Linked DNA regions of Homo sapiens. The protein of the gene in region 2 interacts with the protein of the main gene of each other region in a pairwise test. Each region holds a gene or a part of one and is shown on either strand. Other genes may lie near its edges.

What was found.
Region 1: the proteins of NAIF1 (region 2) and PAX4 interact in a two-hybrid assay, tested with the Homo sapiens proteins (one large-scale study listed by BioGRID).

The regions. Positions count from the first base shown.
Region 1 is NC_000007.14:127,609,502-127,612,697, forward strand, and holds the end of PAX4 (paired box protein Pax-4), read right to left. Parts: intron 2,500-3,196; coding exon 2,444-2,499; intron 2,176-2,443; coding exon 2,034-2,175; intron 1,706-2,033; coding exon 1,563-1,705; 3' UTR 1,485-1,562; coding exon of another isoform or gene 1,351-1,484; 3' UTR 791-1,350; downstream 1-790.
Region 2 is NC_000009.12:128,064,521-128,068,644, forward strand, and holds the start of NAIF1 (nuclear apoptosis-inducing factor 1), read right to left. Parts: upstream 2,801-4,124; 5' UTR 2,582-2,800; coding exon 2,071-2,581; intron 1-2,070. Other genes in the region: mitochondrial adenyl nucleotide antiporter SLC25A25, read left to right, coding at 3,800-4,060. UniProt on the Homo sapiens protein: Induces apoptosis.

The DNA.
Region 1 (3,196 bases), on a different chromosome or scaffold from region 2:
GGGTTCCCGCTGTCCTTGCAGAGCACACAACCCCAGCCATGCCTCCCCATCTGCAGCCAGCATCTTCACAGCAGCAGCTCAAGATGGGTTGCCACTACCACCACAACCATGAGGCCTCAGCTGAGACAGCTCCTTTCTGTTCTGCCTAGCAGGACCTCCAGCTTGAAAGTATAGAAGGCAAGGCAGGGGCAAGATGTGCTCTATTACCCTTGAAATTTCATTCTAGAGCTGTGCAGTCCCATAGAACTTTCTGCAATGACTGAAATGCTCGATAGTCCTTACAAGCCACATGTAACTACTGAGCATTTGAAATGTGGCTAATGTGAGTGAAGAACTGCATTCTTCTTTTTTTTTTAATGTGAATTACATTTAAATAGTCACATGTGGTTGGTGGCTACTTATTTAACAGCACAGTTCAGCACAGCACAGTATTTGATAATGAAGAGGCCTCTTGAATGACGTCTTCTGGATCAGTACCTATCCCAGATAGGAGTAAACAATGCCCCCACCTCCCCGCCCGCCGACCAGCATTGCACCATCATTATCCATCGCCTGACTTTCAAAAGGGAAAGAATTTGGAAGGATGAGCCTATCCTCCTTGCTGAATATCCGATTCTTCACCGCCTTTCCCCCATATTCCTCCCTTTCTCCACATCCTGAGACTTCTCAGGAAGGGCCTAGACCTTTATTTGAAGGGACAGAATTGAGAAGGTTTGGAACTTACTGCCAAAAGGACCAAGCAAACATGCCCCTGGAGCATGTATAAATAAAGCACATATAAATGGAAAGCAGAATATGAAAAATGGCATTTCACTCTGTTTGCTGCTATGACAAAAATACATATGCAAATACAAAATACATATGCAAATACAAAATACATATGACAAAATACATATGACAAAAATACATAATTTTCTTAGATTAAGAAGTTACAGTAAATTTTCTTAGATGTGGATATATTATTGTGATTATGTAAGACAAGTTTCTTGTTTTTTGGGGATGCATGCTGGAAGATTTAGGAATAAAATGCCATGATATAATGTCAGTGTGTGTGTGTGTGTGTGTGTGTGCGCGCACGCATGCACGCATACATAATACACATATAGATGCATACATAGAGTAGGTAAATTGATGCATTGACAAATACATTGTTTAGATACATGTATTGCCTACATACATGCATAGATTAGATGGTAGATACATAGATGTAAATAAATGATAGGGCAAATTGTCTATAATTGTTGAATATTAGAGTGGGCATAGGGGTGCTCATAGGGAAAACATGATGGACAACAGAACTACTGCTAATAAAAACAGCTTTTATTACTGCTGAGTGGAGGCCTCTTAAGGCTAGTGTGAGAAGTGGGTGGGTGTTGCTTTACCAGCCCCTCCAATCAGGTGATGCGCCAGAGAGGCATCGAGGCAGGGCCAGGCAACGTCCACACAGGAGGGAGCAATCACAGGAAGGAGGAAGGAGCCACAGTCTGTATGGGCAGGACGGTAAGGACAATGGGCAGGATGGTATTAGATCTTCTCTATGCCATCTCCTTCCCACTCCTGCCTCATTCCAAGCCATACAGTAGTGGGCAGCCAGGCCAGAGCAGGGCCTGAGAGCCACTAAGACTGGCCAGGTGACAGTGGGAGGAAGGGCAAGGAAGGCAAAGCAGTCCTGAGTCCAGGGAATTCGGCTGTGGGGGCAAGTGGCCTGTGGGGACAAATAGAGAGAGCTTGGGGTTATTGCTCCCACCCCACCTCTCAAAGTCACTATGGGAGAGAGGCTGAGACATCAGTTTCCCACCCTGCATATACACACTTGAATCCCAGTCTCACATCCTTTACCTGCTATGGCTGTCAGTGATACCATAGACTCAGGGGTTACTAGTCTCCGTAATTTTGTGGACCATGCAAAGAATGAGGAAAGCTGTATTGAGATTCCTTTGATGACCCCCAATGGAGATCCATGCCCTCCTGGAGGTTGAGTCAGTCGACCCTCCCTACATCCTGCAGGACTGAGGCCTGGCCTGAATTCTTACCCCAGCAGGGCTTGAGACAGGCTTTAGGTGGGGTGTCACTCAGACACCTTTCTGGTGCTGTTGCCCAGCACAGCTGATAGCAGGAGGGACCCAGTGGTTCCAGGGCAGGCAGGGCTGCTGTGGGCACACTGCCAGGGGACTGCTAAAAAAAAAAAGCAAGAGAAGAACCTTAGCTTCCAGTGATGCCTCCTGTAGAGAACGCCGGGACCCCAGAGCTGCCTGCCACCCAAGTAGTATCCTGCACAACTCCAGAGGGCACCATTCACATAGTAGACTTTGGGTTAGTACTTTCTTGACATGAACACTGTGGGGCCCTGGAGAGCCGGAGATCCTGGCTCAGGCCAGAAATGGAAGAGCCCATGAGCCCTTCAGTCTTCCCAGGGCACAGACTCCCCTCTCCTCCCGAGTACCTGTGCAGAGATGATTCCTGGGGCAACCCTTGGTACAGTCAGCCCCTGGGAAGCACCTATAAAATGAGAGTGAATCCACTCAGAAGGAGGAATTGGGGTTAGGGACGGGAGGAGTGTGGTGAGAGGCAGGAAGGTTGGATACAAAGAGGTTCTAGGAAAGTCAGCCACTTCTTGCAGGGGTGTGAAGAGATGGATATTTTAACCCAAAACTGTCCTCTTCCCCAAGACAGGTCCTTGGGAAACTGGAGAAGAATGATTAAATTCCAGTGATGGTACTGGGGACAGTGCAGCCTTAAGATCCGGGACTGTGTGTGCCCAGCATCTAGCACAGGGTCTGGCACTGGGGAGATGCTGAGTAAATATTGGATGGATGGGTGGATGGATGCACAGATTAATGGAAAGATGGATGGATGGATGGATGCATGGGTGCATGGGTGGCTGGATGGATGCATGGGCGGATGCATGGGTGGATGGATGGATGAATGCATGAGCAGATGCATGGATGGATGCATGAATGAATGGGTGGATGGATGGATGGATGGATGGATGGATGGATGGATGGATGGATAAATGGATAGGTAGATAGGTGGGTGAGCAGATGGGTGGGTGACTGGCTGGCTGGATGGATGGATAGATGGGTGGATGGATAAATGGATGGATGGAGAGATGGATGCATGGATAGATGGGTGGATAAATGGGTAGCTGGGTGGATGGGTGGGTGTGGTGGGTGGATGATGCCTGGATGAATGGATG
Region 2 (4,124 bases):
CAAAATGACACCAAGAGGTTGGTGCTGTCATCTTCATTTTTCAGAGATGAGGAAACAGACTGAGAAATGTAGAATGACTTGCTAAGGTCACAGAGCTCATTCAGCAGAGCCAAGAGGCAAACCCAGGTCTCCCCAACAGCAGAGCCCGATGTGCTCCTGACCTCCACGCTGGGCTGCTCCTAGCTAAGAAAGGCACCCCCGGCCGGGCGCGGTGGCTCACGCTTGTAATCCCAGCACTTTGGGAGGCCGAGGTGGGTGGATTACCTGAGGTCAGGAGTTCGAGACCAGCCTGACCAACATGGAGAAACCTCGTCTCTATTAAAAATACAAAATTAGCCGGGCATGGTGGCGCATGCCTGTAATCCCAGCTACTTGGGAGGCTGAGGCAGCAGTGAGCCGAGATCATGCCATTGCACTCCAGCCTGGGCAACAAGAGCAAAACTCCATCTCATAAAAGAAAGAAAGAAAGAAAGGCACCCCAGAGGCTGGGTCACATGCTCTCTGTGGTACCATGCAGCAGGCATCTTGGGTGGGACTCTACACACGCTCTTTGCAGCCACATTAGTCCTACCTCCTTTGATGCTTTCTGCTTTTTTTTTTTTTTTTGAGACGGAGTTTTGCTCTTTTGCCCTGTTACCCAGGTTGGAGTTCAGTGGCACGATCTCGGCTCACTGCAACTTCTGCCTCCCAGGTTCAAGTGATTGTTGTGCCTCAGCCTCCCGAGTAGCTGGGACTACAGTCGCCCACCTCCAAGCCTGGGTAATTTTTGTATTTTTAGTAGAGACAGGGTTTCACCATATTGGCCAGGCTTGTCTCGAACTCCTGACCTCCACTGATCTGCCCACCTCAGCCTCCCAAAGTGCTGGGATTACAGGAGTGAGCCACCATGCCAGCCCTTTGATGCTTTCTTGACTTGACTTCCTAGGCCCCTATGGCGAAGCAGAAAAGGAGGTGGGAATGGGGCAGCAGTAGCTAAAGTACCCAGTCAATGTCTCCCTGTCTGTCATCATCTGGGTCAATCCGATACTTAAACATCCTTCCTGTTCCAGAACAGCATCTGACCTAGACCCGTGTTTGTCCCCCTTACCCCACCCCAGTGTATTCTTGAGAAATACGCATTGTGAGGGGATGGCACTCGCACATCCACCCAACTCCCCCAACCCCCACTGAGAATCACTGAATGATCCAGCTCACGGTCATCACAAACGAGCAGAGGTAACAGGGCACAAACTCTTCTTTGAACTAAAAAATCCAACCAAAGTTAGTTCTGTTGTCATTCCTGAGAACCACGGAAAGGATCCTGGCTGGGCTGTATGGGCCTCCGCGCATGTGGGAGAGGTCAAGCTCCTCCACCCTTCAACGCCAATGTCAGCTATGTGTCCTTATGCCACCAAGAAGCCCCCTTCCTCTTCCGGGGCCTGAGGTTTTCCCAACTGATGGCGAAGCTATTCCTATATGTGTCATCTCTGTCCTACTAGAACATAACTGGCCTGTATTTTAGACAACTTGGTAATCCCAGTGCCCAGCACAGGGTTTGGTACAGAATAAGTGCTAATGTTTGATGAATGAATGAATGAATGAATGGAGTAGATTAACACCAGGAACCATGAGGCTCCTGAGCAGCACCTGATGAAAGATCCCCCACACTGAAAACAGAATCCAGAATCGTTGTCTCACTTGGGCAGTATTATTCCCATCAATTTTTTCAACAAATATGGCCTGGCTGTCTACTACAAGCCGGGCCCTGTGAAAAGTCCTGTGGGGATACAGACACGGTCTCTTGTTTTCAAGGACCACCCAGTTCGGCAAGTGGAGGTAAGTCATGGACAAACATGGTGGCAATGCTCAGTGGCGAGCTATCCAGCACGTCAGAAGTCCAGCCCACGTGCTGAGGAAGTCCCAAAGAGAGCAAGATCACTTCTGTCTGGGTGCTGCTCTTGGAAGGCCTCATGGTCTTCCAAGACCCCCATCTGACCTCTGACCCTTGGCAGCCAACCTTCCCCAGGCCACCCCAGAGCTTGCTGGCCCTTCCCACTTATGCACGCCGCCTGGGCAGGAGAGGTCACTCACTCTGTGTCAGGGTGACCGTGGCTGCGGCTGCGGTGGCCGAGGGTCCGAGGGCCACAGGGTGGATCTCTGTGGTGCTGGGCAGGCTGATGATGGTGGCCTCGCCCAGCAGGTTGCAGATACGTTGTTGCATGGGGGTCAGCAGCACTGGGGCTACAGCTGGGCCACCGCCACCACTGCCACCGCCTGTCCCAGGCCCCCCAGCTCCGTCCTCCTCAGTGGGCCCCGGCGCCTCACCACCCTCCACGGCGGCCCGGACCTGGGCAACCTTGCGACGGACCTCGGTCTTGAGGTCAGACCACTTCTTCTTGACCTCAGGCAGCTCTCTGCGGCAGGTGGCCACGGCGTTGACCCTTCTCAGGATGCCGTGCCAGGCCGCACTCTTGGCGGCCAGGGGTACCCCGGCGTTGAAGTGGTTCACCAGCAGGTGCTTCTTCAGCTCCAGCTCCTCCACGATGATCTCCACCTCCCGCTCTGAGAAGTTCATCTTCCTTTTCTTGGCTGGGACGGCCATGGCCTCTCCCCTCCCCTCTTTTTAAAGAAATTATAATCCCCTCAAGCGCCCCAATTCCCCTTCTCTTCTTCCTCAGCCTCGCCCCTCACCCACCCCCTACAGGGGATAGGCCAGGCTTGCTCGAGGCCAAGCACTAGGCCTTTGGTAACCCCCCTCGCTACGCAAAGTGCGTAGGGCCCAGCCCCGACCGGCCCGGCCGCTGCCAGCCAGCAGCGTAATGGCTTCCTGAATCTGCCTCTTCCGCCGAGGTGTGCGGAGATCCGCCCACTTCCCCTCTTCCCGCCTCCCAGCGCTTCTCCGGGAAAACCGGCCTTCCCGGTTGGTAGCTGCTCAAATATCACGTCGATCACTGGTTCTTTCGATCTGTCGCTCAGCTAAAGAGCACGCCTGCTTACTGTAATTCGCCTGATCATTGGTCTAAAATTGTGTCCGTCGCCCAGAGGGCCCCGCCCACCTAACCTTTATTCACTTCCATTGGAAAATCATTCTGTCGTTCAATTGTCAGTATTACGACTATTAAGCCGTTAAATTCAGCTATTTTATTGGTGGTTTAGGGAGTTAGATTACCAAAACCCTGCTTCCTGAGGATACTTAGTGCTTTCGGCCGTGACCCATGGGTCAATTAACTTTTAATTCCTCCCACCGGCACAAACTCTGCCTCGCAACTGCAGTTCACAAATGCTCTCACACAAATCCTGTTTCCCACTGGAGGCTACGATCTCTCCGTACACTACCGCTCCTCCCATCCTTAAGATCCCGCAGTCTAAACAGAGTTAGTTCATCAATGGAAACTGGACACGGGGCCTTCCGCCTGCCAATCACATTACTCATGCCTATCGCTGCGTGATTTTCTCTCTCTTGGCCCCCGGCTCAGCCAATCCCCGCCTCCCTCAGTTTGAATCGGCCCCAGGCGGAGCCGGGTGACCCCGCCCACCCCATTGATCCGGGTAGTCCGTGGCGCGTGGGCTGTCCTTAGACAGGCTCCGCCCCTCCCTCCTCCCCATCCGAGCCTGTGACTGGCCTTCGGTGCGCCCGGGCGTGGCCGGCGAAGCGGGGCGCGGAGGGGCGGGGCTCCCGGAAGCCGCCCCTTCCGCCAGCTTGCCGGCGTCTCCGAGCCCGCGCTCCCAGCTGCAGAGCGCCTGGCTTGCCTCCCGCGCGGTCACCGCCGGCCCGCCGCCCCCGCTCCCGCCCGCGCCCGGAGCCCCTGCCTCGCGCCCGATGGTGAGCAGTGTGTTGTGCCGCTGTGTGGCCTCCCCGCCGCCGGACGCCGCCGCCACCGCCGCCTCTTCGTCTGCCTCATCGCCGGCGTCCGTGGGGGACCCCTGCGGCGGCGCTATCTGCGGGGGCCCGGACCACCGGCTGCGCCTGTGGAGACTCTTTCAGACGCTCGACGTCAACCGGGACGGCGGCCTGTGTGTCAACGACCTGGCGGTGGGGCTGCGGCGCCTGGGACTGCACCGCACCGAGGGCGAGCTCCAGGTAGGCTGCGCGCGTCCTCAGCACTGGCGGGGAGGGAGCCCCTCGAGGGCCGGGTGACAGGTCT